Regions from separate parts of the Homo sapiens genome. Here region 1 is linked to region 2. Evidence: fine-mapped expression QTL. A gene starts in region 2. The other region holds a variant in brackets. All regions are shown on one strand. Distances are from middle to middle. Region 1 overlaps MR1 (major histocompatibility complex, class I-related). Region 2 holds the start of MR1 (major histocompatibility complex, class I-related).

The links. PIP is the estimated chance that this variant, and not a neighbour inherited with it, causes the effect.
Region 1: its variant is fine-mapped to the expression of MR1 in whole blood (INTERVAL, PIP above 0.99). The same link has a PIP of 0.9 or more in monocytes after LPS.

What each region holds. Positions count from the first base shown.
Region 1 is chr1:181,054,153-181,070,154 of GRCh38, forward strand. It overlaps MR1 (major histocompatibility complex, class I-related), which reads left to right. Exons shown (of 6, transcript NM_001385161.1): 6 at 1,073-7,786. The coding sequence ends at 1,113. Among named protein-coding and RNA genes, the nearest start is that of IER5, 27 kb to the right of the region's middle. RefSeq lists enhancers at 7,876-8,005, 8,646-8,695. The variant G/A (reference allele first, on the strand shown) is at 8,495.
Region 2 is chr1:181,026,796-181,042,797 of GRCh38, forward strand. It overlaps MR1 (major histocompatibility complex, class I-related), which reads left to right and starts at 7,188. Exons shown (of 6, transcript NM_001385161.1): 1 at 7,188-7,279. The coding sequence starts at 7,213. RefSeq lists enhancers at 6,368-6,557, 6,758-6,857, 6,988-7,097.

The DNA.
Region 1 (16,002 bases), 27 kb after region 2:
CCTTCAGGGAATGGGACTTAGAGTAAGGAAAAGGGGAGGAGAAGTAGGAGATATATAGGCTCTTGATAATGTGGAATAACATAAATTCATTCAGTAAGTATACATTAATGACCTACTGTGCTCCAGGCACTGTACTGGTTGCTGGGATATAACAATGAACAAGACAGATACGATCCCTGTTTTCATAGAGCTTACAATAGAGCCTGGTAAGGTTATCTCCTGGCTCTGGCTTCACTAATTGCTCAAATTGATCACAGGATAGTACCGATGAGACCATGCTTTGAACCCAAAGTGGACCAGAAGTTTGGTTTTCCTTCATAGACATAGACCTCAACTCCAATTCAGGTGATAACTGTACAAAAGCATGTTGTTAGATCAAAGTAAAACCAACCCTTTTACTAGAAAATCAGCTCAGAGGCCGGGCGTGGTGGCTTACAACTTGTAATCCCAGCACTTTGAGAGGCCGAGGCAGGCGGATCACTTGAGGTCAGGAGTTCGAGATCAGCCTGGCCAACATGGTGAAACCCTGCCTCTACTGAAAATATTAAAAAAAAAAAAATTAGCTGGGCGTGGTGGCACATGCCTGTAATCTCAGCTACTCAGGAGGCTGAGACAGGAGAATCGCTTGAACCTGGGAGGCGGAGGTTGCCGTGAGCAAAGATCGCTCCATTGCACTCCAGCCTGGGCAGCAAGAGCGAGACTCTGTCTCAAAAAAGAAAAAAGAAAAGAAAAGAAAAGAAAATCAGCTCAGAGAGTTAATGGGTTGTTAATGTTTTCTTTATAGATAAAGTACAGCACTAATCCTAATCCAATAAATGATAGTGAAACAAACAAAAAATTTTTTTACAATGACATCCCTCTCTCAATAATTATACAGACTGTGAGTTCCTGCTTTTTATCTTATAGAGTTTACAAATTTGAGCTAAAGTTTGTCAAGTACTAAGAGAATCTTGACAAAGCAAGCTAAAACTGTCGATGCCTGTTTCTCAGATTTTGCTGAACACTGCATACTTTATTTTTGAGCTGTGAGGAAACATTCTTGTAATCTGACTAAAAACCCCTTTCCTTTCAGAGCAAAATGGAGCCATCTACCTTCCAACACCAGATCGATGATTGCAGATCCCTCTTTTCCAGTTCTCCTTCCTCTAGGAGCCATGTTATCCTCTGTCCCCCATAGAGTCAAGCCTAGTGCTTGAAGGTCCTGACGACACCCACAACATACATGAGAGTAATGGGATTGAGCATTTATGGCAGCAACAGAGGAGCCACAAAATGTTCTTTGTTCTTTGGCTCCAAAAAGACTGTCAGCTTTCAGTCTCTTTTGATGGACTGTTTTATCAGAGTTGACTTTAAATACAGCTTGTCTCATGACACAACGCTTCCCTACATTCTATTTGTCAATGATGATTTGCAACTAGTTGGAGATTCTCAGAGCAGGAAGGAATCTTTTCAACCAGAGCAGGAACTGTCTTCTGCAATGCCTTGGACTTGAGCCTCCAGCCTCCACTTGAACACCATGTGAAGGGAACCTCAGTACTTCATAAAATGGCCTTTCTCATTCATCTTTCATGGGAACATTTATTGTACAAGCGCTTTGAATATCATGGGCACCATGACTGTGACCCTACAGGTAGGATTGGATCACTCCATGAGAGTAGCCGGCAGGTTTCTACAATGGCCTGGGAATGGACTGATTATTTTTATACATTTTCTGGCCTGAGAGAAAGCCAAAGTCCCCTGCTGTTCACAGCAACCCTGCCTGGGAGCTTGGAATCTTGGTAATCTGCCCGGTTGGATCTATGGAGGTAGTCTCACCCTTTTTGTCTTTTGTGGGAAATTAAGAGAAATAATTATCAGACATATCATCACCTCCAGTGGAACTACAGAGACCTGGACCCAGCTGCACTATTTTAATGTAAAAATAACAGTATGGCCAGGTGCAGTGGCTCACGCCTGTAATCCCATCACTTTGAGCAGCCAAGGCGGGCGGATCACGAGGTCAGGAGATTAAGACCATCCTGGCCAATATGGTGAAACCCTGTCTCTACTAAAATACAAAAAATTAGCTGGGCATGGTGTTGCGTGCCTGTAGTCCCAGCTACTTGGGAGGCTGAGACAGGGGAATTGCTTGAACCCGGGAGGCAGAGATTGCAGTGAGCCGAGATCACGCCACTGCACTCCAGCCTGGCGACAGAGTGAGACTCTATCTCAAAATAATAATAATAATAATAATAATAATAATAATAATAATAACAGTATATTTGGTGTCAGGAGAGGGCTCAATTCTCATTTCTGCCTTTCCTGTGCTGGCTCATGGTAGCTGGGCATGACTTGCCTTCCTACATAGGTTGTCTTCATACATATGCACTGGGAATCAATAAAAGCCCATGGTGAGAATGAACATCCCCTTAATGTTCCTTACTATCCCCAACCCCTGAGGCCTCACCTACTGCCCTGCCATGTGGAGCTACTTGCCCTGGGGCTGCCAGTCACACATTCCTCGGTCCTACTTCTCTGACCCCGTTTGACTCTGCACCTGAGCCCTAATGCTTACTTCAGTGACCTGAACTTTGACAAGTGGCTTTTGTCCTGCACCTCAGGTTTGACCTCTGCTCTCCCTTGACCTTGACTGTGACATTTGACCTTTGGCTTTAATCATTACAGCCTCAGATAAAGGTACCTTCAGCCCGGGCACAGTGGCTCACGCCTGTAATCCTAGCACTTTGGGAGGCTGAGGCAGGCGGATTCCCTGAGCTCAGGAGTTCAAGACCAGCCTGGGCAACACGGTGAAACCCTGTCTCTACTAAAATACAAATAATTAGCTGGGCATGGTGGCATGTGCCTATAGTCCCAGCTACTTGGGAGGCTAAGGCAGGAGAATCACTTGAATCTATAAGGCAGAGGTGGCAGTGAGCCGAGATCACACCACTGCACTCCAGCCTGGGCAACGGAGCAAGACTCTGTCTCCAAAAAAAAAAAGAAAGATACCCTCAGTGTGCCAGGCCTCTAAGAGCTCACCTGCCAGGCTTCCTCCTTGCTCCACTGTCCCATGTAATTCCATATATGAAGCTACCACTGTACATCTCTCTTTTCCGGTGCCTGTTGAGTTGCATAGAAGCACAGTTGTGTTTATTTTGTTTTTAGGGTTGCCATGGGCAATTTCCGTGCCACTTTTAAGCAGTGTTGCACTGTGAAGAGAATGTAGGCAAGTTTATTTCTGGAATGGTTTCTTCTTACAATCAGAATAGTTAGGATGTAATATATTTTTGGGTGGGCATTTAAAGTGAAAAGGTACATATTTACATAGACACAGGTGATAATGTATCTATGTAAATGCCTTTTGATTCTGCAACTGCAGGATACTCTCATCAAAGACACAGATAAAAAGCCTCTGTGTTTCCAAGGCCTTGCCCTACACCTAACACATAATATGTCCAAATGGATGAAGAGGAGGCAAGGACAAGGATGTGATGACAAAACATTCTGTTATGCACTTGTAGCATTTATGTTTCTTCCTGGGGGATTTTATAATACTAAAAGAATCATAATATAAAGAGATGATTAAAAAAAAAATACTGCCGGGCACGGTGGCTCATGCCTGTAATCCCAGCATTTTGGGAGGCCGAGGTGGGCAGATCACCTGAGGTCGGGAGTTCGAGACCAGCCTGACCAACATGGAGAAACCCTGTCTCTACCAAACATACAAAATTAGCCGGGGATGGTGGCGCATGCCTATAATCCCAGCTACTCGGGAGTCTGAGGCAGAAGAACCGCTTGAACCCGGGAGGCAGAGGTTGTGGTGAGCCGAGATCGCGCCATCGCACTCTAGCCTGGGCAACAAGAGTGAAACTCCATCTCAAAAAAATAAAAATAAAATAAGTAAGTAATACCTAAAATTCTGCAACCTTCATTTTACTATAGATGGTTGAAGATTATATTACTTCTTAATTGTTTTAGCCTTGTTATTGCTTCATTACTTCATGGTTGTTGAGTACAGATGCTCAGTAATCATAACCTATGAAATATTTGACACCATGATCTAAACATTAAAAACAAATAACTGTGCTATTGCCACAGCTATGTTTTGGCTTTGAATTTTCTTTACTGAATATTTTGGATCAAGAACACTAGATGAGAAACCTGTTCAACTCTGTTCTTTTTTTTTTTTTTAACTCCACTGTATTTATTACCTGTTTTTGTTTTTTTTGTTTGTTTGTTTTTGATGTGCATATAGACCAAGATGTGGTAAATTTAAATGGCAGATGTTTTTGATGTGGTACATTTAAGGGAGAGAAAGCAGTTTAAAGAGCAGGGTGAAAAATCCAACAAGACTCCATCGAGAGTTTCTGAGCTCTCCCATCAGGGGCCAGTCCTCCTTTCCTCTCTCCTCTTACTCCCATGATTTCCAAGTTGTGATCCTTTCCTTATTTCTGAGGAATGACTTGGTTTCTCCTCTTCTTTTTTTGGCCTGAGAGAAGATGTTTTTGCACTTGTAGCTATGAGGAACAGATTGTCCACTAGGGAGGCCAGCTGATCATTTTCTGCCAGAGTCACACAGAGCAGTCACACCTTATTTTGAAAACCACTGTCTGGGGTCTTTGTCCTCACATATGCAGGTCTAGTGTCCCCACAAAGTGATCAGATGGATATATAAAGTGGAGTGCCAATGTATTAATTTACTGTGAGAAACACAATTGCTAAGTGGGTCAGATATCTGTCTCAGCTGGTCAGTACACCTTCCAGCAGGAAAATCTACATAAGAACAACTAAATCACAATCTGTAGAGTGCTTGATGACCCCAGAATTGGTGCAAGGGGACACATTCTTGCTTGTTAGCACCTGCTCTCTGGAGTTTGCTATTTTCTCACACACAGTGTATTAGTTCACAGAATGTTCTCCAAGGAGGACAGGGGGCTTTGCCCATAGCCATGTGCTGTGGGCAGCAGAGCTAGGAAGAAGCACAGGCATCTCCCAGCCCAGGTGTTTCCCACTTAACTGCATTGCCCTTTTCATCTTTTTTTTTTCCCCAATAGCTTCAGGACATTCAGTACATTGTGCTTTTTAGAGGTTGATGATTCCACTGCCTGAGCTGCCTTCACCTCTCTTTCTTTGGAAATTGCCATCTTTGAGCATTGTATGTCTCTGTAACATCTCTGCATCTCCTTTTCACTCTGGCCTCCCTTTCTCCATTGTCCTTCTAGCTTCTGGTTGCCCCAAACCCCACAGACTGTGTAACAAAACCCAAAACCTATTGGTTTAAAACAATACCCATTTTATTTTCTTTCATAGTTTCTATGGGTCAGGAATTTGGATATGGCTTGGGTAAGCAGTTCTGGCTTCTCATGGAGTTGGAGGCAAGTGGTGGCTGGAACAGAAATGGGGCAGCCAGGGGTGGTGGCCAGGCATCAGCTACATCTCCTCCATGTAGTCTCAGGAACTCTCCATGTAATCTCTCTGTGTGGGTTGGGCTTCCTCACAACATGGTGGCCTCAGGGCAGTCACTGCTTACATGGCAGCTAGCTTCCCTCAGAGTGAGTATCCCAAGAGATCACAGTCAAAGTGCATAGCATTTATATAATCTAATCTTGGAAGTCACAAAATGTCATTCTTGTGATACTCTCATTGGTGAAGAAGTCATAAAATCCTGCTCAGGTTCAAAAAGAGGGTGTATAGAACCCAACACTCAATAGGAAGATTGTCAGAGTTACATTGTAAGAAGAGCATGTAGTTGGGAGATATCATTGTGGCCATTTTGGGAAAGATGCAACATGTCACAATGTCATGTTCTCCATCGTCTCCCCGTTCCACCTTGTACTGGTTTCCAAGGGTAGTCGTTTAAAAGTACCACAAAAACTGGGTGGCTTGGAACAACAGAAATTTATTGTTTCACAGTTCTGGAGGCCAGAAGTTCAAAATGAAGTGTTGGCAGAAACATGCTGCCTCTAAAGGGACTGGGAAAGGATCTGTTCCAGGCTTCCCTCCTATCTTCTGGTTGTTCCTTGCCTTCTGGCTGCGTAACTCTAGTCTTCATTTGGTGTTCTCCCTGCATGCATGGCTTTGTGTCCAAATTTCCTTTTTTCATGAGGCCATCAGTCATACTGGATTAGGGACCCACTCTACTACTGCAGGATGACCTCACCTTCCCAAATTACATCTGCAACAACCCTATTTCCAAAGAAGGCCACATTCTGAGGTACTGGGGGTTATAACTTCAACATGAATTTTTTGGAGGAAACAATTCAACTCCTAACACATCTCTACCCAACCTCTGTAGGTTCCCTCAATCCACCAAAATTTTTTGGCTCCACTGGATTATCTAGCAGTTAGGAAACCAAGATCATTAAATGAATTCACCGCAACTACAGTGAGACTGACTACCTTAGCTTACCTCTGTGAAAGGAGTTAAGCCAAAGGAATCTGTGGAATTTTGGAGAGTTTGGGAGCATTTGGGGGCAGGAGGCAAATGTTCTTCCTTTAAATCACAACACTTAGTTCTCTTCCATTTATAAGACTCACCCCTCCATCCCAACCCCTGCACCACAGGACAAGGAAGTGTTCTTGGTCTTCAACTTTCATCCCTGATGGTGAAAGCAGTTGCTCCTGACCTATTTGCCCACCAGCTTCTCCTCTGGAGCCTGAGGCTTCTGATGCCTGCCTGGCTGGTTCTCAGTAAGAAGGTCAAGTTCAACCAGAGGGGAGATGCTGATGCCTTTCAGTACTTAAATATGAGTTCAGACCCTGGGGCCTGGACATAAGATTTGGGGTCCCCTGGATATAAGATTTCTGAAAACACTCAGACTGTGGAGACCCCTGCTGAGGGAGAAGCCCCAAACTGTGGCTTCAGGGGAATGCACCAAGGCTCTCATTGAGGCCACCTTCTCCAACAAGCTCCCCTCCTGCTTCCCCATGGCTGGCATGGCTGAGGAAAAAGGACACTGAGCACAGCCCGTGCATGAGCGGCTTGCCATGCAACAGGATAAAACCCATAATGCCACTCAGCAAGCCTTGGTTGTAAATCTAGTTTGATTACATTTGTAATCAAATGATGGCCATTTGTTCTGTTTCTGGTTTGTGAACCAACTGAAGACATAAGCAGGGCCTCAGCTAACCCACAAATAGCACATGTGTGCAAACTGGAAAAATGAACCCTTCTTCTGGGAGGACGCCAGCCCAGGCCAGGTCACCCGGCTTGGCCAGCAGAACACAGAGTAGATTTTGGTCCCGTTTGTTCCCCAGTGGGGTATCTATCCTTGTGCAGGGCACAAGCCTACATGGTGGCTCTGGTCATATCATTAGAAAATAGACAGAAATGGGCTGCACACCAGAATGAATGAATTGAATTGAAAGGGAGGAGTGATGGTGGAAAAAAAAACAAGTCAATTCATTTAGACTGGTAGAACCAGAACCACTGTGTAGTACATCCAAACGGTTAAAATTCCCTGGAAGATGTTACATAATCCTATCATGGTGTTTATTTATGGAAATCTATTTTAAAAATTTTATGTAATACTGCACAGTCTGTTTGCATGATGCCTTGTACGTAGTAGCAACTCAGTAAATACTTTTTGAATGAACTAGTATAGTATTTTAATTAGCTAGTCTTCATGTACTGGTACAAAAGAACAGTGTCATCTTACAGCTGAAGTCATAGAGGGGAAATATCCCACTCAAGATCATATAACATTCCAGGTACTCAGGATGAATGGTTTGAGGACTGGTCTGAATTCTTCAAAGGTTTCAGCTGTATTAACATTCTCCATCTAATAAACTTTATCTTGTCATTGCATTGTCTGTGAGATTAGTGATCTGAAACATTCCATCAATACCCCCACCCCACCCAACACATACATATTAAAGACAAAGATAGAATTCGGAGGTTCTTATGGGAGGTACTGTTTTTCTCGAAGGCTATGAGAAGAGGTGCTGAGAAATGAGTTCTCAGCCATCTTGGGGGCCCAAATATCTGAAACCTTCCAGAAATGTAACTAGTCTGAATTTGCTTTTCTGTCACCATTTGGGTATTTGGTTAATGAAAGTTCTTAACATGCAAATTCCACCCACTCTTACCAATGCCCTGAGCTGGGAAGCACCCTGAGCACTCTTACCACACCCTGAGCTGTTGCTTTTCCTCTCCGCCTTGCCCCCACTCCGTGTTGGCTGCACCAGCAGAGGCTTCTGCATTTGCCCCTGGGCGGGAGTTGGGTATGAAGGTCTGGGCCAGAAGGTTCTGAGTCCCTAAGCTGAGCTGCTGGGTGGCAGCTGGAAGGTCAGGCTGGCTGAAGCCCTGGCGAGGTGACACTGGGTCTGAGGCAGGTGCAGTGGCAGCGGCCAGACCTCTGAGGACACAAATGGGCTAGAGTGTGGGAACAACCGGGGAAACAACCCGGGGGTGGGAAGGGAGTAGGAAGGGGGGAAACAGCTTCTGAGAGGAGGCTACAGGATGAAATGGGAAGCCACGAAAATAAGGAAGTGAAACCAAGGGAGAAATAAGAGT[G/A]CCACCCAAGCCGAGGCCGTCCTGGCCTTTCTTCCTTTCTGAGGCATCAGCGCAGATTCTAAGTTTACTTGAACTAACCGAAAGCTCTGTTGTTTTCTGAGCAACATCACAGTGGCATAAATAGAGAATTCCTGGAACACACTGGCAAGACACACGCTCTAGAAGGTGACAATTCTGGGGAAATCTGAAGGGCTGGAATAATAAAAAGTCAAACATTTGGCATCCCATCAGCTGCTGAAACACAACCCTCTCACGTACTTTAAAATACCCAACACATGCACTCTGCATATTACTCACGAAACAGCTACGAATGCACAGTCCCTGTGTTACACACAACAGGAAGTTGCCAAACCAGATGTAACCCACCAAGGCCGAGCACATGGGCAGCCCTTCACCTTACTGTTAAAAGACTGAATGGTCATTGGTCCCTGAGGATCCCTGAAGAAGACAGGCAAGCTGTTCTAATCCAATTTAGGTCTTTGCAACTGAAATTGAGATCAAATTTCAAAGATCTGTAAACTAGTGCAGCTTCACAGACTTGAAATTAGTCTACAAGATGACATGTTTCTGGGCCTAATGATGACATTTTTAGAGACTGCCCCCAGCCACAAGGAATTATTCGTTTTTTCTGTGTGGCATGGTATACACCATATTTTCATTCAAGCCACAGAGTTTTTTTTACCCCAGTTTCTTATTAATAATCTGCCACAAATACTGATATTTAAATCAAATTCTTATGGCCTTCATTAGTTAATCAACCATTCATGAAATATATGCGCCATAAGGCCTGACACTTCAGTGCCTGGCACATAGTAGGCACTCAGTACATATGCATATTGACAAAATGAACTGCTGCTCCTACAAGCCAGACTCTGTAGGCAACACAGCACAATGATGTTCTGAAAATTAGCAAGTACAAAAATGGCCCAGACATATGCTTATAGAAAAATCAAGCTCACATCACAGAAAATAATTTTAGAGATTGTAATCTAGAATGCATTTCTATAAAACAGTCCCTGGGTTTTCTGCTAACAGAAGAAATACAACTCTGGCTGGGGGCACGGTAGCTTACACCTGTAATCCCAGCACTTTGGGAGGCCAAGGCGGGCAGATCACTTGAGGTCAGGAGTTCGAGACCAGCCTGGGCAACATGGTGAAACCCCGTCTCTACTAAAAATACAAAAAAATTAGCTGGGTGTGGTTGCTGGTGCCTATAATCCCAGCTACTTGGGAGGGTGAGGCAGGAGAATCACTTGAACCTGGGAGGCAGAGGTTGCAGTGAGCCAAGATTGCACCATTGCACTCCAGCCTGGGCGACAAGAGCGAAACTCTGTCTCAAAAAAAAAAAAAAAAAAAAAAAAAAAAGAAAAGAAAGAAAGAAATACAACTCTGACAGTGAGCTTTCATAGTAATACTGAAGACACAGGTTGAATAAAACTTTCAAGTGAGATGGGAGGGCCTGCACATAAATATGCCATGAAACAAAGGACATGGGGAGGATGAAGGGCTCAGCACTGCCTCCTTCCCTGCAGCCGCTGGGCTGGGCTAAGAGGACCCATAGGCAGTGGCGATGGCGACAGCAAGGAACTCAGAGATGTTCAGTGAGACAGAGGAACTTCTAATCCTCTAGTTTCCTTTTGTCTTCCTGATAGCCTATCCTCAGAGAAATAATTCCCTTACTAAACGCCTAAGTGCTTTTCAGCTCTGCCACTCAACTGACACTTAGCTATTCTGTGTTGGTATTTATCTGTTTCTGCTCGGCTTATCTCCCTGGCTGGACTATAAACCCCTTAAGGGCACAATGTGAATTCTGTGTCCTTCACTTAGTATCAGGGTGATCTTAAGTTGTTTAACTTCTCTGAGCCTCATTTTTATAAAACCCGGGGCTAGTCAATACCTGTCTTCCAGTGTCAAAGTGGGGATTAAAGGAGATGTGTGTGTGCAAGCATATTGCAAAGAAATGGCATCTGGGATGTGTCTTCCTCTACGTGCTCTCCAGGGACTGCTCCCCATGTCCCATATAATCGCAGCCACCATTTATGGGTGCTTACTATGCACTGGGTACTTCACATATATTACTTCTATTCCTCATAACAACGTTGGCAGCAGGTATTATTATTATTATTTTGTTGAAGTTCAGATAAATTGTATTTCTTGACAAGGTTATATAGTTAATAAGTGGCAGAGGCATGATTCAGACTCAAGACACTGTCTTGAGTCTGGGCACTGTCCTATCTGCACACAGGGCACTGTCCTATCTGCACACAGTAGGCCCACTCCATCAATGCCTGACCAAAACTGTGAGGTGTCATCCACTTAAAACTATTGAGGACTAAACTCTGATTTTTTTATCTTGCCCAAATTCTTATCTAAGGGGACTGGGGAGTCATGCTCTATAAATCATAAATTCTCATCAGATGGGTTTTATTTAACCCTACATATCATGATTTATTTTCCAACTTGACTCTGACATAACATTACCAGACAAAGAAGAAAATCAAAATATTTTAACCTGGCCAGGCGTGGTGGCTCACGCCTGAATCCCAGCACTTTGGGAGGCCGAGGCAGGCGGATCACAAGGTCAGGAGTTCAAGACCACCCTGGCCAACATGGTGAAACCCTGTCTCTACTAAAAATACAAAAATTAGCTGAGCATAGTGGTGTGTGCCTATAATCCCAGCTACTTGGGAGGCTGAGGCAGGAGAATTGCTTGAACCGGGACCCAGGAGGCAGAGGTTGCAGTGAGCCGAGATCGCGTCACTGCACTCCAGCCTGGGCTACAGAGGAAGACTCCGTCTCAAAAAAAAAAAACCCACAAAAATTAGATGGGCGCAGTGGCAGTCACCTGTAATCCCAGCTACTCGGGAGGCTGAGGCAGGAGAATCACTTGAACCCAGCGGAGGCAGAGGTTGCAATGAGCCGAGATCACGCCACTGCACGCCACTGCACGCCAGCCTGGGTGACACAGTGAGACTCCATCTCAAAAAAACATATATATATATGATATGTAATATATTTAATATTAATTTAAATATATCAATTTTAATGTAATTTAAATATTAATATTAATTTAAATATATATATATTTTAAACCTCAAAACATGTTTCTTTGCCTTATTTTGAATTGGCCCTGCAAAGCTGTTCTTTGTCAGGGGAAATTTGCATCTGTAAAGAATCTCTATTAACATAGCTAGATCTTTTTCTTCCAGACCCTCCCAATCCTAAAAAGATTAACTAAGATCTGAATAGGAAACATTTGTCCCCTATTGTCTTTAAGCCACTGTAAGACTTAAAAAGAACTTTGGTCTCCACAATCTTTATCTTAACCTGAACATTCCCTTTCTATCTATCCCAGGTCTTTAGGCAAACTCAACCAATTGTCAACCAGAAAATGTTTAAATTCACCTATAGCCTGGAAGCCCCCACTTTGAGTTGTTCAGTCTTTCTGGACCAAACCAATGTATTTTTTAAATGCATTCGATTGATGTCTCATGCCCCCCTCAAATATATAAAACCAAGCTGCTCCCTGACCACCTTGGGCACATGTTCTCAGGACCTCCTGGGCCATGGTCACTCACTCACATTTGGCTCAGAATAAATCTCTTCAAATATTTTACAGAGTTCGATTCTTTTCGCCGACACTATGTTCTGTACTTAATCTTGGGAACAAAGGAGTTCAAACATCTGTGCAATGAATCAAAAATTAATAAAGGCCCTGATAAATTTAGGAAAGTTTGAATCTTTTTCCTCTGACTTTGATGATGTGACTTAAAGGCTGAACAAGGCCTAAAGGGCCAAATGAAGCAAGTTACCACACATTTCATGGACATGTCAGTGAAACCCGTGGATAACATTCGCTACTTGTTGATTCTTAGTATATGGAGATGCTGGTGCATAAAGGAAAAAGTATAAGCTCCCTCACCTTGCAAAAACAACTCACCCAGGGTAGATCTATGGGCACACAGAATTGCAGAGCTGGAGGGCCCATTGAGTGTCATATAGTTCAATTTTCTCATTTTTTTTTTTTTTTTTTGAGACAGAGTCTCTCTCTGTCGCCCAGGCTGGAGTGCAGTGGCGCAATCTCGGTTCACTGCAACCTCCGCCTCCCGGGTTCAAGCAATTCTCCCGCCTCAGCCTCCTGAGTAGCTGGGATTACAGGTGCCCACCACCACGCCCAGCTAATTTTTGTATTTTTAGTAGAGACGGGGTTTCGCCATGTTGGTCAGGCTGGTCTCAAACCCCTGACCTTGTGATCCACCCATCTCGGCCTCCCAAAGTGCTGGGATTACAGGCGTGAGCCACCGCGCCCGGCAATTTTCTCATTTAACATATGAGAAAATTGAGGCTAGAGTGAGTAAAGTGATTTGCCAAAAGAAACCCTGAAACCAATGATAAACCTCATGTCTTGACATAAATGTTCAACATCTCTAGTCATTAGGGAAATGCAAATTAAGAGCACAATGAGCTATCACTGCATATCTCTAAGAACAGCTAAAATAAAAGAAGGCTGGGTGCGGTGGCTCACACCTACAATCCCTGCACTTTGGTAGGCTCACTTGAGTATCACTTGAGTCCAAAAGTGATACTTTGGGAGTATCACTTGAGTCCAGGAGTTCAGAATCAGCCTAAGGAACATGGTGAGACTCTGATTCTATAAAAAATTAAAAAAAAAAATTAGCTAGGCATGGTGAAATCTGCCTGTAGTCCCAGCTGCTCAGGAGGCTGAGGCTGGAGGATCACTTGAGCCCAGGAAGTCAAGGATACAGTGAGCTGTGTTTGTGCCACAGCACTCTAGCCTGTGCTGTCGGGCGAGCGGCACTCTAGCTTGGGGTATGGAGGGTAGGGGAGCGAGAGGGAGAGAGAGACCTTTGTCTCTTAACAAAAAGAAGTGATAATACCAAATGCTGGTGAGGATGTGGAAAAACTCAAAACAGTTTGGTCATTTCTTTTTATAAAGTTTTTGTGTATATATTTATGGGGTACATGAGATGTTTTGATACAGGCATGAACTATGAAATAAGCACATCATGGAGAATGGGGTATTCATCTCCTCAAACATTCATCCTTTAAATTATAAACAATCTAATTACATTCTTTAGATAATTTAAAAATATGGCTGGGCGCGGTGGCTCATGCCTGTAATCCCAGCACTTTGGGAGGCTGAGGCGGGCAGATCACAAGAAGGTCAGGAGATCGAGACCATCCTGGCTAACACGGTGAAACCCCGTCTCTACTAAACGAAATACAAAAAATTAGCCGGGCGTGATGGTAGGCGCCTGTAGTCCCATCTACTCGGGAGGCTGAAGCAGGAGAATGGCGTGAACCTGGGAGGCGGAGCTTGCAGTGAGCCAGGATCACGCCACTGCACTCCAGCCTGGGTGACAGAATGAGACTCCGTCTCAAAAACAAAAAAGAAAGAAAGAAAGAAAGATTATTTAAAAATATACAATTACATTATTGTTGACATAGTCACCATATTGTGCTATCAAGTAGTAAGTCTTATTCATTCTTTGTTTTTTTGTACCCATTAGTTTGGCCATTTCTTTAAAAACTTGATATACACTTACCCAGCAATTTTATGCCTGGGCATTTACCCTAGAGAAATGAAAAATTATGTACTCATAAAAATCTGTATATGAATACTCATAGCAGCTTTATTTGTAATAGACTCAAACCAGAAACAATCAAAATGTCCCTTGATAAGTGAACTGTTAAATGATGGTACATCCATGCCATGGAATATTACTCAGCAATAGGAAGGAATGAACTACTGATGCATGCAACAATTTGGATGAATCTCAAGGGTATTGTGCAGAGTAAAAAATGCCAGTCTCAAAAGGGTCACCTACCATATAATTCCATTTATATAGCATTCTCAAAATGACAAAATTATAGAGATGAAAAACAGATTAGTGGTTGCCAGGGTTAGGAATGGCTCAGGGGAGGGCATGAGTAGACTGTGAAGGGGTAGCATGAGAAAGAGCTTTGTGGTGATGGGATGGTCCTGCATCCTGATTGCAGTGGTGGTCATACAGATCTACATGTGTGATAAAATGACACAGAACTATACACATATATTGAACCATATCAATTTCTTGGTTTTGATATTGTACCATAATTATGTAAGATATAACCTTGGAGGAAACTTGGTGAACAGTACATGGAACCTCTCTGTGTTGTCTTTGCACTTTCCTGCAAATCTATAATTATTTCAAAGTAAATTTATTTTATTTTATTATTATTTTTTTTTTTGAGATGGAGTTTTGCTGTTGTTGCCCAGGCTGGAGTGCAATGGTGCAATCTCGGCTCACCGCAACCTCTGCCTCCCGGGTTCAAGCGATTCTCCTGCCTCAGTCTCTGGGACTACTTGCATACACCACTACGCCCAGGTAATTTTGTATTTTTAGTTTAGACAGGGTTTCTCCATGCTGGTCAGGCTGCTCTCGAACTCCCGACCTCAGGTGATCTGCCTGCCTCGGCTTCCCACAGTGCTGGGATTTCAGGCATGAGCCACCGCACCTGGCTAGTAAATTTTTTTTAATTAAAGGACAATGCACCTCCTCATTTCTGTTAGGATATTTGTAATTATCTGGTTTAACTAAATACATTAAACTAATTGCTATAGAGTGTTCCGTAAAGACTAGCCAAATAATAAAATTGACCAGTTAAAGTGACCTGTGTCTTTTATAGCTACCTAAAACCTCTTTTTAAAAAATTGCACTTAGTTTGCAATCAGTAAGTTGTAAATTAAAAATACTTAAGTGGATCCATTAACAGTGGAATAATCTGAAAAGGTTGTCCTATTAAAATTTGGCACTATCATAATATTAAATATCATTTGTTTGGGGATTTTTGGGGATGTTTCCACTGGTTTAAGATTCTAGGCGGGGCATAGTGGCTCATGCCTGTAATTCCAGCACTTTGAGAGGTCGAGGTGGGCAGATCACTAGAGGTCAGGAGTTTGAGACCCGCCTGGCCAACATGGTGAAATCCTGTCTCTACTAAAAATACAAAAATTAGCCAGGGGTGGTTGTGGGTTCCTGTAATCCCAGCTACTTGGGAGGCTGAGGCAGGAGAATTGCTTGAACCCGGGAGGTGGAGGTTACAGTGAGCCCAGAGCAAAACTCTGTCTCAAAGAAAAAAAAAAAAAAAAGATTCTATAGAAGAAAAAGCCCAAGGTATTCGGTTCCTGGATCTTGCTACTATCTTCCATAATTTGAAGACGTCACCACCTAAGGTGACCATCATCTACTTACGTGACTGAAAATTCTCATCACTTGGTGGTGAGCAGCTCAATGAGATGATTTGAACTTTAAGCTCTTTTTGCACAGGCAGGAGGGCTACCACTTAAGACTGATTATACTTCAATTACTCTGATTGTTGGGTTTTAAGATGATTTCTTTGCAGCAGCTCTTGTCTAGCTTTTCATGGCTGCACCTTGAATCTACAGGTAAATCTCCCGTTTTTGGGGGCTTATGTTATCTAAGATGTGTAACTAACGTTTCTTT
Region 2 (16,002 bases):
GACACCCCTACAAGGGGATCTCCCCTACTCTGAAATAATGACATTCAGCCTGCTCCTTCACTAGCCTGTTATAAGGAACAACTGGATCATATATGGGAATAATTTTTTATTTTTTAAATTTTTTATTTTTTAAATTTATGAGGCCGGACATGGTGGCTCACACCTGTAATCCCAGCACTTTGGGAGGCCAAGGCGGGCAGATCACAAGGTCAAGAGATCGAGACCATCCTGGCCAACATGGTGAAACCCCATCTCTACTAAAAATACAAAAATTAGCTGGGCTTGGTGGTGCGTGCCTGTAGTCCCAGCTACTTGGGAGGCCGAGGCAGGAGAATCACTTGAACCCAGGAGGCAGGGGTTGCAGTGAGCCAAGATCACGCCACTGCCCTCCAGCCTGGCGACAGAGCGAGACTCCATCTCAAAAAAAAAAAAAAATTTAATTGTGGTAAAATACACATAACATAAAATTTACCATCTTAACCATATTTAAGTGTACAATTCAGTAGTGTTAAATATATTTGCCTTGTTGTGCAACCAATGTCCAGAACTCTTTTCATCTTGCAGAACTGAAACTCTATACCCATTAAACAACTCCCCATTCTCCCCCAACAATCTCTGGCAACCACCATTCTACTGTGTGTCTCTATGAATTTTACTACTCTGGGTACCTCACATAAGTGGAATCATACAGGATCTGTCTTTTTATGATTTGCTTCTTTCAGTTAGCATGATATCTTCAAGGTTCATTCATTCATTCTACATATTGCAGAATTTCCTTCCTTTGTAAGCCTAATATTCCATTGTATATATACCACATTGTGCTTGTCCATTCATCCATCAGTGGACGACACTTGGCTTTCTTTCATCTTTTGGCTATAATGAATAATGCTGCTATGAACGCTGGTGTACAAATATCTCTTTGAGACCCTGCTTTCCATTATTTTGGATATATACCCAGAAGTGGAACTGCTGGATATGGTAATTCTATTTTAAATTTTTTTGAAGAACAGTCATATTGTTTTCCATTTTACATTCCTGCTAAAAGACACACGCATTCCAATTTCTTCATATCTTCATCAACACTTGTTATTTTCTGGGTTTTCTTTTCCCTTATAGCAGTTGTACTAATAGGTGTGAGGTGGTATCTCATTATGGTTTTGATTCACATTTCTTTAATAATTAGTGATGTTAAGCACCTATTCGTGTGCTTATTGGCCATTTGTATATCTTTTTTGGGGGGTGGGGAGAAATGTCTATTCAAGTCCTTTGCCCATTTTTGATTGAGTTGTTTTGTTTTTGTTGAGTTCACCCTAAATCCTTCTTGAAACAAGGTAAAGAAAGGGAGAAAAGTGTTAACATAGATATAGGATATCATACTCTTCATCATTATCCAACCTTTTAGAAACCCTGATATACATGTACATATTCCAGAACATTCCACTTATGTTAAGTTCCATTGATCTGGCTATGACTGTCTATGTTTCCTACCTCCAACCACAGAAAATATCCATACACATATCCAAAACACACTGGCCATGATTTATTTCCTCTTCCTGTTTGTTACCAACACCTCCACCACTGTCACCCTCTACACACTGATTTAAAATAAACAAGGAGGAATTCCAGTCAATTTACATATTCAGCACTAAGGAATGATGGAGAATTTGTGGAACATCCATTTGGTGGTCATTAGAAATGTTGTTTAAAAGTATGTAATGACATAGGAATGGCTTGAGTAAAAACAGCAAGACACAAAATTATACATATGATACAATTTCAGCTCTGTTCTTTCTTATACATTAAAATGTTTTGGTACATAGAAAATTTTTACACGTAGGAAAAAAGAAATCTATTTAAAGTTTGTCAACTACTACAGTGAAATATTTACTTGGATAGTCAGAAATCCAAAAAGTTTTTTAAAAAGAAGAGAAAAAGTAATAAAAGAGAAGTGAAAAGCCAAGTGACCACATACGAAAAAGTACATCAAAAGTTAGCAGTTTTCAGCCTGAGCAACATGGCAAAACCCCATCTCTACAAAAAAAAAATACAAAAATTAGCCAAGTGTAGTGGCTTATGCCTATGGTCCCAGCTACTCGTGAGGGTGAGGTGGGAGGATCACTTGAGCCAGGAGGCAGAAGTTGTAGTGAGCCATATTCACGCCACTGCACTCCAGCCTAGGCGACAGTGAGACCCTGTCTCAAAAAAATAAATAAATAAATAAATAAATAACAGTTTTAAATCCTGTTTAGAATAAGGCAAGTTAGGAGGGTCTGAATGAATGGAAATTGGTGAGTACTAAAAAGCTGAAATACGTTATTGGAATTCAGTGAATTTCTTGACAAGACGGTGGATTTGAACCACTATAGGAAGGGGAGGTATGTTCTTTACCATCCTTTATGAATGTGACTGTGTATAAGGAAAGAAAAATCAATCTGTGTTGGTAAACTGGCTCATTGCAATAATAGTACTAGTGATTGCTAATATTTACATACTATGTACCAGGCATTGTGCTAAGTGACCGATGTGGTTGGGCTGTGTACCCAACCAAATCTCATCTTGAATTCTCATGTGTTGTGGTGGGAGGGACCTGGTGGGAGGTAATTGAATAATGGAGGTAGGTCTTTCCCGTGCTGTTCTCATGATAGCGAATAAGTCTCATGAAATCTGGCAGTATTATAAGGTGGAGTTTCCCTACACAAGCTCCTGTCTGCCTGCTGCCATCCACATAAGATGTGGCTTACTCTTCCTTGCCTTCAGCCATGATTGTGAGGCCTCCCCAGCTATGTGGAACTGTAAGTCCAATAAACCTCTTTCTTTTGTAAATTGCCCAGTCTTGGGTATGTATTTGTCAGCAGTGTGAAAACAAATACAGTGACACACATGCATTATCTTCAGAAGCTCCAGAATCCCCATATGGGGCAGGTTTTAGAATGTAATTTGGTTGGACAGCAGGGCTAGGGGACTTGATGTGGCATGGGAGACCCCTGTCTTTTCTTTTTTTTTTTTTGAGATGGAGTCTCACTCTGTCGCCCATGCTAGAGTGCAGTGGTGCGATCTCTGCTCACTGCAAGCTCTGCCTCCCAGGTTCACACCATTCTCCTGCCTCAGCCTCCCGAGTAGCTGGGACTACAGGCGACCACCACCACGCCCGGCTAATTTTTTGTATTTTTAGTAGAGACGGGGTTTCACCATGTTATCCAGGCTGGTCTCGATCTCCTGACCTCATGATCTGCCCACCTTGGCCTCCCAAAGTGCTGGGATTACAGGCGTGAGCCACTGCGCCTGGCCTCTTTTCTTAAATTATAGGTTTATTTGGGATTACTTAAGACAGCTGATGGCCATTATGCGTGTGTAGTAAAAGTACTCTAATGCCCCAACAAGTGACAAGTCACTTCTTGGTTCCACCACTGCTGATTTCATTGAATCCTCACAATAATCCTGTAAGGCAGAATTGGTTATTACCTCCATTTTCTATGAGAAATCCCAGACTTAGAGAAGTTAATAATTTGGTCAAAGGTCACATAGGTAGGAAATGTCAGAGCCTCATTTGAAAATAAGTTTGACTCCTGAACCCATGTTCTTTGCTACAGTATTCTACTCCCATTTGTACAAGGACTAGCCTTGGCCAAAAATTGGCAAATGGATTTTACCTACCCACAGAAAAGGGCTCAAATCAAACTCGACACAGACACAGACACAGACACACACACACACACACACACACACACACACACTTCTACTGAATTAAAAAAGAAATAGCCAAGGGGAAACTACTGATTAAATATAATAAAATATATTATGTTGAAAACAACATTATTTAACAAACAAGACCCTTTTGCTAACTTGATAATTCATCATTTGGTTTTTAAGGATGAATTGCACTAACTGCAAATGAGTCAGATTCCTCAGAGGGGCCTTAAAATACATATAATAAATCAGGTATTAAAAAGCCAAACACATAAAGGGATTTATAATGAACAGGATAAGCACAACCCACTCTGAAAAGTGCGGCCTGAGATTTAAGTTTAGACTATTGCTCAGAGGTGAGGCTTGTTTTTCCACAAAGAGAATGCGAGGGATTCTCCCTACCTCAGTGCCTCCCAGCTTAGTGGGGCAGTCTTACCTGTCCTTGAAGATCTTGGCATAATTGAATCTATTAAAAATTTTAAGGACTATTAAAGCTATGCTATTAAAAACTGCATATTAATATTGGAAAATATAAATTTGAAAAGAATTTACAAAATACTATTAGGACGTAAAACCCTTTTTTGGTAAAATGAACAAATAAAGGTATGCTTATATGCAGACATATGTAGTCAGCAAAACCACTGAAAAGAAATACACTAAAATATGTTAACAGCAAATTTTTTCCTTTCTTCCTCCCTCCTTCTCTCTCTCCTTCCTTCCTTCCTTCCCTTCTTTCTTTCTGTTGCCATGGTTGTAGTACAGTGGCGTCTCAGCTCACTGCAGCCTTGACCTCCCTGGCTCAAGCAATCCTCCCACCTCAGCCACCTAAGTAGCTGAGACTACAGGCGCATGCACCACACCTGGCTAATTTTTTGTATTTTTAGTACAGATAGGGGTTTCACCATGTTGCCCAGGCTGGTCTTGAACTCCTGGGCTCAAGCAATTTGCCCACGTCAGCCTCCCAAAGTTGGGATTACAGGTGTGAGCCACCATGCCCGGCCAACAGCAATTTTTTCTGATGGGTGATTTTTATCTTATCACTCTCTGGGTTTTTTATATGTATTTGCCCTGTACTCTGGATTAAATTTACTAATTTGCAATTAGAATACAATGACTTAAAAAATGAAAGACATCGGTCAGGTGTGGTGGCTCACGCCTGTAATCCCAGCACTTTGGGAGGCCAAGGTGGGTGGATCCTGAGGTCAGGAGTTCAAGACCAGCCTGGCCAACATGGGAAAACCCCATCTCTACTAAAAAGACAAAAATTAGCTGGGTGTGTAATCCCAGCTACTCAGGAGGCTGAGTCAGGAGAATTGCTTGAACCTGGGAGGCGGAGGTTGCAGTGAGCCGAGATGGCACCACTGCACTTCAGCCTAGGCGACAGAGTGAGACTCTGTCTCAAAAAAAAGAAAGACATCGTTGACATACCTACATTTTTTTTTTTTTTTGAGATGGAGCCTTGCTCTGTCACCCAGGCTGGAGTGCAGTGGCACAATCTCAGCTCACTGCAACCTCTACCTCCTGGGTTCACACCATTCTCCTGCCTCAGCCTCCCGAGTAGCTGGGACTACAGGCACTCACCACCACGCCTGGCTAATTTTTTGTATTTTTAGTAGAGACAGGGTTTCACCATGTTCCAGGATGGTCTCGATCTCCTGACCTCGTGATCTGCCCGCCTCGGCCTCCCAAAGTGCTGGGATTACAGGCGTGAGCCACCGCGCCCGGCCTCATACCTACTTTTTAATGTCAGTACAGCAGGTTATGGTATGGAATGCATTTTGGAACAAGATATTAACAAAAATTCAAAGGAAAAAATACATGGCCATGGAATTCCAGTGCTGAGAGACATTTGGGAATATTGGGGGAGTTTTCCAAAAGAGAAATCCAGGTGACTGTATTTGTTAAATGAGTAACAAAAGGAAAAACAATGTAAAGAAACAGAAAGGAAAGGAAGAGAGAAATACAAAGATCTGAGAAGAGAAGGTGCCAGGGGCCGCTGAGAGATTGCCAAATGTTAATTTCATTATTTGGCTTCTTATTTTATTCTGGGTAAAGGTAGACCTATTAGTTTCCTGTTGCTGCTATAACAAATTACCACCAACTTAGTGGCCTCGAACAATGCAAATTTATTCTTTCAAAGTTCTGGAGGACAGAAGTCCAAAAATGTGTCCTATCAGCTGAAATCAAAGTGTTGTGTTCCTTCTGGAGGCTCTAAGGAGAATCTGTTCCTTCTCTTTTCTAGTTCTAGAGGCCATCTGCGTTCCTTGGCTCATGTCCTTCTTTCAGCAATGGCATCATCACTCTGACCTTTGCTTCCATTGTCACATCTCCTTGACTCTGACCCTTTTGCCTCCCTCTAATAAGGCCCCTCTGATTACACTGGGTCCACCAGATAATCCAGGATAGCTCTCTGTCTCAAGATCCTTAATTTAATCATATCTGCCAAGGGTTTTGTTTTGTTTTATTTTGTTTTTGCCATTTAAGGTAATATATCCACAGGTTCTGGCAATTAGGTTGTGGACATCTTTGGGGCGACAATTCTCAACCTACCATACAACCGGTACATAAGGTTCTACTACCTACTAAATGCATCATAAACAGAACTTCTGATCCTTCAACAACTCTGTGAAATATATGACAGGATTTGCTTTTAAAGTTGAAGAAATCAGGCCTTGGTGCAATTTGGGATTCTGCCCATGGTCAAATAGTGGGGAGGCAAACCCAGGTCCCTGAACCCAGCTCAAGCCTGCCTGCCTCATGGCCATGCCTCCATTCACCTCTCCCCTTCATGTCTACTTCCTCTTTCCTGTCTGGGCCTGTTCCCTAGCTCCCTGGACAAGCTTAAGCTGCTGTTTTCCAGCTTGTCATGTGCTCCTTATGACAGTGTAGCCACAGCTTGATCTTGGGGATTGCTGATTGAGCAAGCTGAGTGGCTGCCCCTCAGAATCTTCTGTAGGCCTTTCTCTTGCCTTCTTTTATTCAGTAAGTGTTTTGAGCTTATTGTGCTGGGTGCTAGAGTAGCAGGGAGGACAGACCTAAGTTGAAGATTACGGGACAATCTAAGTGACACCTGCTATCTCAGACAGAGACTTCAGCATCATAGGGAGCCAGAGCAGGGAGTTCCAAGCCGTGGGAACTGTGACTCTTTCTTACTGACCCTTAAGCAAAATTCTAAGCTCCAGGGAAGCAGAGGCAGCAGCTTGAGCTCCCTGATTGACCAGATATGATTAATCTTTGTTTCTCTGTGCTTTGAACATGACTATGCTCCATAAATATTTAAAAATTGGGAATAGGGTGAAGATAGATACACCAAAAGGAGCAAGCAGTGTCTGAAACCAGCAAAGACTTAAAAGTTACCGAAGAAGGTGTTCATGCTTTCATTTTATCTTTTTTTTTTAACCTAGCAACTGATGACACTGCATATCTTCCCCTGTTCTTATTGGGAGAAGGCCTTGTGTGTCACCAAGAGGTTCTCAGAAGGGACCTGTCAGTTTTTGGTTAAAAGAACCCGGAAAGAGAAGGACTATGGGGGAACTGATGGCGTTCCTGTTACCTCTCATCATTGTGTTAATGGTGAAGCACAGCGATTCCCGTGAGTATCCCACGTCCTCTTCTCTCCTAACTCCAAAGTCGAGGCAGCCTAGAAGGCACAGCTTTTCTTCCTAAAACTTGTGGTGAAAAATATAGAAGCCAGGGGCAGAAACGTGTATGTATTACACTCAGACTCCAGGAGCAATGGATTGCCTGAACAGTTTCCCAGTTCATATTTGTAGGATTTTGATGTCACCACCTTCTGAGGGAGGGGGAGCCGTTCTAGAAAGACTCTGGAACTTCCTCACTTTCCCTCTGAGCATGGCCTCCTTTCTTTTCTGCTCATATTTTTTCTTTTACTTTTGTTTCTCCTCTTTTCTAACTTCCAGAGTCTCATGAGGATGTAGTCAGAGTTTCAGGGGCATTAACAGTGGAGTAGATCCATTGTTCAGGTTTATTTATGTTTTTCCTCAACACAAGCCCTACCTGTAATAAAAGATCCAAGAAAGATAAAACCATGGCTCTGGGTTTGTTTACTGACTGTGAGAAGTATTAATCAAGTAGAAGGGAGAGTTTTTCATTATTCGGGGAGCTCAAGTCACTGGGGAAGCAAATGCCTTCTGTTGCCTCAAATAGGGGAAAGGGCCCATGGGCTAGAACCACCAGGCTTCTCTGCCCTAATCACTTGCTCCCTGGGCTGAGGACTGGTACTGGTGGGCAGTGTCCAGAACTTAGACTTGGCCACCACCATAGGTGTGACTGATGAACATGAGAGGAAGGAGTTCTTTCAAATCACCCATGCACATAGAGAGTGGAATGACTGACCATGGAGATTTGGAAGGGCGAGGGGGGTGGATGATTAGAAATTACTTAATGGGTACAATGTGTGTTACTTGGGTGATGGATACCTTAAAGCCCCAACTTGACCACTACACAATCTATGCTATAACAAAATTGCATGTGTACATCATAAATTTATACAAATAAAAAAATTTTAAATCATATGGCTGGGAGTGGTGGCTCACACCTGTAATCCTAGCACGTTGAGAGGCCGAGGCAGACGGATCGCTTGAGGTCAGGAGTTTGAAACCAGCTTGGCCATCATAGTGAAACCCCATCTCACTAAAAATACAAAAAATTAGCTCGGCACACCCATCTCTACTAAAAATACAAAAAATTAGCTGTGCACAGTGCGCACCTGTGATCCCAGCTACTCGGGAGACTGAGGCAGGAGAATCACTTGAACCCAGGAGGCGGAGGTTGCAGTGAGCCGAGATCATGCCACTGCACTCTAGCCTGGGTGACAGAGTGAGACTCCATCTCAAAAAAAAAAAATCCATATATTAATTGTTCAAATATTGATTGATGGCCTACTATGTGCCAGGCACTTTGGGGGATATGGCAGCGAACAAGACAAACATAGTCTCTGCTTCCATGAAAATTTAATCCAGAAAGTGTCATCATTTATGGGAAAGATTGGGGGTGAGGGTAAGAGGCAGAAGATGAAAGAGGAAAGGAGGAGAGAGGCAAAGGGTGATATTTTTGGAAATAATAAAGCTTATATATTACCTGCATGTGATTCTCAAAGAACTCTCCAATAATATGGAATAATATTCCTTAAACATATTATCTCCTATGACAATCTCACTGACTATTTGTAGTAGGTGAAGAAAATATCCCCATTTAAAGATGAGGCCTAGATTTTTCTCTAGGCCTAGAGAGTGACCACGCTCACATAAGGAGCAACCTGAAGGAGACTGCAGATCTTCTGGCCCTCGGTCCAGGGCTGTTCCACAATGTCATTGCTCCTTTGGGTGTGAAGACTTGTCACTTTGATAATTGGGGGGACAGGAAATAAAACAAGTAAGTTATAAAGGCAAGGGAAGGTCACTTGGTGCTGGCTGTTCTCCTTCTGACTCCTTAGAGTGCATCCTTCTCTGTTCTGTTCTGTGTCCTTGAGGCTGACTGCTAGACTGCATCACCTAGACTCTCTTGCAAGCTGATTTCTGCTTGGGTTCATACAATGGGAGACACTGAAAGGAGAGATGTCAGAGAGCAGGGAGGAAAGAGAGGCTGGGATACATCTTTCTTGCTCCTTCCCCACTTTCTGTGATGTCTTTGGCAGTAGCTATGTTCTTCTGTAATGCTGTCTTCCCTGAATAACCCCTTCTTCATGGTTCTAGCTCCCATTGGGCTTCAGTAACGGTATTTGCTATTCTTATCTCTTAAGCCCTAGGGGTGATAATGGCTTCCCATAGTTGTTAGCCTGCAGATGCCCATCATCCTTGTTTGTTCCGTTAACCTTGACCATATCTCTGCAAGGAGTCCCTTCATTAAGGTCTCCTCACATGACCCATCTGGCTTGAAGGCTGTTTCCTGCTAGGACCCTAACTGAACATTCCTGGGCTTTGAGGGATATTGGCTGGAAAAGGATATGAGATTATGAAAGAAGACTCAGTCTACTTGATATTTATGCCTAGTGCTAGCCCTGAGTGGGAGCTATATACCAGTAATAGATGGGGAAACACGGGGAAGAGATACTGCAGGGTTGTGGGTCATTACTCCAGGAAATGTCAACATAACTCCAATATCACTTTCAGTGTGTTGCTTTCATCAACTCCACAGCCTGCAGTTGACTCCTCCTTCCTTTGTGCTCCCATGGCTCCTGTTCACAGTTCTGTAATTTTCCATTTACAAAAATCTTCTCTTTGAGGCTCTCCTTAAAGACAGAAAGAGATATCTTCATTTTTTTCTTATTTCTCTGGTATACCTAGTGCCCAACAGGCACTTAGTAAATGTTTGCTGAGTGAATTTATGTTCGGAGGTAATGTCCCTAAGAAATCACAGTTATTTGACTGGGAGCCATAGAGAGCTCGGGCAGTAATAACGACTGCAAATTCAAAACTGTGGCTTACTGTAGTTGCAGGATTTGTATTAAAAAGGTGTTTCATGCTTTTACAACTCATCTTGTTCTTCATTTCAGCCTGTGTGAAACTGTGAATTGGCGATATGGGTGGGTGTAATCAGACTGGGGGCTGGCATGAGATTTCTCATGCATTGCCATATGTGATTTGTATGTTTCATCTCGACATAACCAAGGTCAGTCTCTTGATATTACTCATAATTTTATGGCTGTATAAATCTGCTATATCAATCTACTTCATGAATGGTGGAGTCCTTCACAGGCGAGGTCTGATGATGGATAAGCTCCCTAAGCTGCCAACTGGGTTACTGTTAAAAAACAGACTTGCATATTATCTGCTTAGAAGTGACCTTGAGTTCAAAGAGTTAACATGAGAAAATATGGGCTTTTTCTTTAGACTTTATTAGATAGACTTCAGTCTGTTTCCATGGAGCTGTTGCCAAGGTATATGCCATAGAAATTTCTCCAAGACAATGTTTCACTCCCCTAAGGCCCTCTTCTTAATTGGCATTGAATCTATCTAAACTTGAGAAATTCAACTAATTTGTAGATTTTTCTTTTGACTAGTTGAAATATCTGTCTATTCTCACTTGACCCCAATCCTCTTACCCCACAGTATTGCTAAGAGCTGGAGGAAAGGAGCCTAAGTTAAAGATCAAACACATGACTCTTTGAACACTTATTTTAGGGAACTCAAATTGAGAAAGATGACAAAGGATGTTTTTTCTGATGTATGAATTTATATTTATCGGGGAAAATCTTTCAAGAGTATACATATTAAGTCACATTTTGTTATAACTTCAAAGGATCATTTTAGAAAAATAAAATTTATAAAATCGGGATTTTCTGGGAAACATAAGACATATAGTCATCATTGTGTACAGAGAGTACTGAGGGAAAAAAGACACCAGAGCTCATTCATTCGTTTTCCAAAACTCCACATAGTCCTACAGGGCTCACTTTCTTACTCCATTCACATCTCTGCTCAAATGCCACCTGCTGTGGTCCCTCTATCTAAAAGATCAGGCCTTCTCCTCTCCACACTCTCTTTTCTCTGCTTTACTTTTCTTCATAATCTTTATCTCCACCTGACCTTGTATTATATATGTATTTATTGCCAATCTCCTGTCTAGAAATTATCTCACAGGGCTGGGACTTTCATGTGTTCATTGCTCTGTTTCCAGCAGCTAGGACTGTGCTTATTGGACATTCAGAAAAGAATATACCTATATGAAGTGAGACATTGGCAACCTTCAAAAGGGTAGCCTCAGAAGAGTAGCTCACAAGCCAAACTTGTCACAGTCGCCACTTTTATGCTCTAAGTTCCTGTAGTTAGTTAGACATGTCATTAGGAGAGGGGACTAATGGTTCTTGCTGCACATAGAACCATCCATGAACATGGCCTGAGATGTGTCCAAAGGTCCCCTTAACTAAAAATATTGCCACCTACTTCTCCCCTCATTCCCACGATGCTCGAAATTCTAAAGAGTCATTCCCAGGAATCATAATCATTTTGACCTTATTAAGGCATTGGACTTCTTGAGAGAGCCAATAAATAATCAGACTGTGTTGACCTGGTTATCCAATCAGGACTCACGGCCACCTGTGTGTAGGAAGGTCTGGAGCCTGTGGCCCCAGGGACTGGGAAATCAGAGGCAGTGAGTCATCCTTGACACAAGGGGGCAGGAGAGAGCAGTGATAATCCAGGGGCTAGAAGCCTGGCCTGGAAAGCTTCCCCTACACTAGGGAGGGTTGGGTAGTCTCAAGGTAGAGGGACTTCCCATGGAGAGATCACAGTGTGATTCCTGGTTCCTTCACTTATGGATTCTGAGGATGATCTTGGGCAATTAATCTCTCTGCACCTATTTTCTTTTCTTTTTTTTTGAGATGGAGTTTTGCTCTTATTGCCCAGGCTGGAGTGCAATGGCGTGATCCCGGCTCACTACAACCTCCGCCTCCTGGGTTCAAGCGATTCTCCTGCCTCAGCCTCCCAAGTAGCTGGGATTACAGGCATGCGCCACCACACCCAGCTAATTTTTTGCATTTTTAGTAGGGACAGAGTTTCTCCGTGTTGGCAAGGCTGGTCTTGAACTCCTGACCTCAGGTGATCCGCCTGCCTTGGCCCCCCAAAGTGCTGGGATTACAGGCATGAGCCACCACACCCGGCCTCTCTGCACCTATTTTCTATCTGTGGGTTGGAATTATAAGACCTACCTCAAAAGTTTGTTAGAAGAATAAGTGAAACCCATGCTTATCAAGGGCTTAAAATGGTACCTAACACAAGGTATGTGCTCAATAAACAAATACAGTTGTGATGACTATGATTAAGATGCTGCTGCCCTTTATGCCTCATTGAAGGCCCATCTGATCTGCCACCTCCTTGGAACATTTCCCAGTGGATCCCTTCTCATGGGACCACGGTCTCTCTTCTCCTAGTGGCTGGAGCACTCCATTGGTACTCTTTTCTGGCGCTTGCTGCTTGTTGCCGTGTGTGGTGGAATTCATTTATTTGTTATGTGCTTTAGCTCCCCAATAATACTGTAAGTTCCTGGAGGAAAGAGCTGGTATTTGATTTGTTCTTCTCTTCCTAACATTGCCTCCAATTCCTTGTACATAGTAGACACTAAATAAATAATTGCCCCCATGAGGCCGGGCGCGGTGGCTCACGCCTGTAATCCCAACATTTTGGGAGGCTGAGGTGGGTGGATCACCTGAGGTCATGAGTTCGAGACCAGCCTGACCAACATGGTGAAACCCTGTCTCTACTAAAAATACAAAAATTAGCTGAGTGTAGTGGTGGGCGCCTATAATCCCAACTACTCTGGAGGCTGAGGCAGGAGAATTGCTTGAACCCAGGAGGCAGAGGTTGCAGTGAGCCAAGATCATGCCACTGCACTCCAGCCTGGGTGTCAGAGCGAGACTCCATCTCAAAAAAAAAAAAAAAAGAAAAAAGAAAAGAAAAATTGCCCTCATGGATGAAGTGAAAACACTTCATCAATTATTTTACAATCCAGTGATTTTCACAGCCTTTTGTAAGAATGGCCCAACTGGTTAATGGACAGGTTAAAGGGAACATGATTTAGAACTATCAAGTAGCCATTGCACCTAGCCTAAGAGTTTTTGGTTGTGTCGTTCGGGTTCTCCAGCACTATCTGTCAGAAGCTGATGAGACTGGGCAGGAGATGCCTTTTGAGAAGTAGCTTGACTGGTTTAGACAGAATACCAAATTCTAAATTGTATATTTCAGCTTAATAAGTGAGTTGATGCTGATGATCTATCTGTTCATGGAAAGGGAGAGAGAGACTTAATTTCAAAATTATTAGGGCGAGAAAAGAGAAATGGAAGATTAGATCAAATGATATGAAATTGCCATTTTTATAGGTCAAAAATGGTAAAATATTGGCCTTTCCAAATGATTCGAAATCTGATTATGTCTGCAACAAATCCTGGTGGGATATAAATTATCACAAGTTTTAATGTACTAGGAGAGAGAGGGTACCTGGACTTTTCCTCATCTTTTCTGTTGTGAGTTACTGACTGAACATGTGTCAATCAACTTCCCACCACAGCAGAGGTAACATTTTAAAGGCCCAGCTAAGGAGCAAGCATGACTTGTTCCTGTGGAGGCACCAGATGGGTAACTGGGCCCATGGCAAATGAAGAGGAAGGGACTGTGATGTCCTGGAGCAGAGCCACGCTGGGCTGAACCAGTGGTGGATGGGTGTGACTGAAAAAGCAAGTCCAGCCTTTAGGTGCCTGGACTTTGAAGTCAAGGCTGGCTGGTGGAGAACAACTGTTTCAAAACCAGGCATCAGAATTAGATTGAAGTTAAAAAAAAAAAAAACCCAGAAAGAAAGAAAGACACAGCCAGGCACGGTGGCTCATGTCTGTAATCCCAGCACTTTGGGAGGCCAAGGCAGGGGGAATCATGAGGTAGGAGTTCAAGACCAGCCTGGCCAACGTGGTGAAACCCCATCTCTACTAAAAATAAAAAAATTAGCTGGGTGTAGTGGCAGGCGCCTGTAATCTCAGCTACTTGGGAGGCTGAGGCAGGAGAATCGCTTGAACCTGGGAGGCAGAGGTTGCAGTGAGCAGAGACTGTGCCACTGCACTCCAGCCCGGGTGACAGAGTGAGACTCTGTCTCAATAAATAAATAAATAAATAAATAAATAAATAAATAAATAAAGCACAATACTTACTTGGACAGTATTGTCAACAGACCATATTTCTCTCTATCTACCTCTTTTAACTTCAGATAATGCAAATTCTTGTGAAAATTACATTTTTATAAGAAAGCAAAGTTACATGAATTGTAAATATTATGTTTGGAGATGATGCTGGTGATACTTAACTGGAATAAATCCTGCTATTGGGCACTAATGCCCCAAGTTGTTAATACTGGAGGTTTTTTTGCTTGTTGGCATCTATCAGGAATGTAGACCTCAGAGATCATAAAAATAGAAAACCCAGATTCCAGGGGATGTTCTACACCAACCCAGCTTAGCTCAGCAACACAGCATCTTTTTTTCTTCCTTCTTTTTTCTCCTCTCCACATTCTCTGTCTGGAGTCTGCTCTCCGTGGGGATTTTTTCCCATGAAAAACTATGGAAGTGATTCCTCCCTCTTTCTTTTCCCCTCACTCCCTCAACTCCAGCCACAGGCCTTTGTGCTGCTCCTGGAATGTGCCAGGCATGTTCTTTCCAGGGGCCTTTGCATGGCCCTTCTTGTCCAGACTGCTGTCCCCAGACACCTGCCTGTCTCCCCAACTCCTTGCAGGCACTTGCTCAGAATTCAGCTTTGTGGGAAACCTTCCTTAATACGCCTTCCTTTTTTAAATAGTGTTGCCCATTCCTCTTTGCAGTTTTATTTTTCTTCACTGTACTTTAAAAAAATTATATATTTTATTTTCTAGTCTGTCTTCTCCCCTTCCCCCGACTAGGGTGTAGACTCCATGAGGGCAGACATTTTTATCTGTTTGGTCTGGTACAAGCTTAGGGCCTAGAAGAGTGGCTGGCACAGAAGAAGCATTGGATATACAAATCAATATTAAGGAAGTGTGAGAACTAATATTCACAACTTGTTCCTCCTTTTGGGTCCTCCTTCTTTAGACAGTTGTGTACCTCCAGTGTAGCCACAAAACTTTCCAGATGTGAAAAAATAGAACTATTTCAAAATCAATTGCAGAATATATATAGTACCCTTTGCAGATCCCAGATTGCAGTTCAACTCTCCATTCACCAGCCTTCCCTTGAATCAAAGATAATTTTTTTTTTTTTTTTTTTGAGATGGAGTCTCGCTCTTGTTGCCCAGGCTGGAGTGCAGTGGCGCGATCTCGGCTCACCACAACCTCCACCTCCCAGGTTCAAGCGATTCTCCTGCCTCACCTCCCTAGTAGCTGGGATTACAGGCATGCGCCACCATGCCTGGCTAATTTTATATTTTTAGTAGAGATGGGGTTTCTCCATGTTGGTCAGGCTGGTCTTGAACTCCTGACCTTAGGTGATCCACCCACCTCGGCCTCCAAAAGTGCTGGGATTAGAGGCGTGAGCCACCGCGCCCGGCCAAATCAAAAATATTTTTTAGGCCAGGTGCGGTGGCTCACGCCTGTAATCCCAGCACTTTGGGAGACCAAGGCAGGCAGATCACCTGAGGTCGGGAGTTCAAGACCAGCCTGGCCAACGTGGCAAAAACCCGTCTATACTAAAAAAAAATACAAAAATTAGCCAGGCGTGATGGTGGGCACCTGTAATCCCAGCTACTTGGGAGGCTGGGGCAGGGAGAATTGCCTGAAGCAGGGAGGCAGAGGCCGCAGTGAGCCGAGATCACGCCACTGCACTCCAACCTGGGCGACAGAATGAGA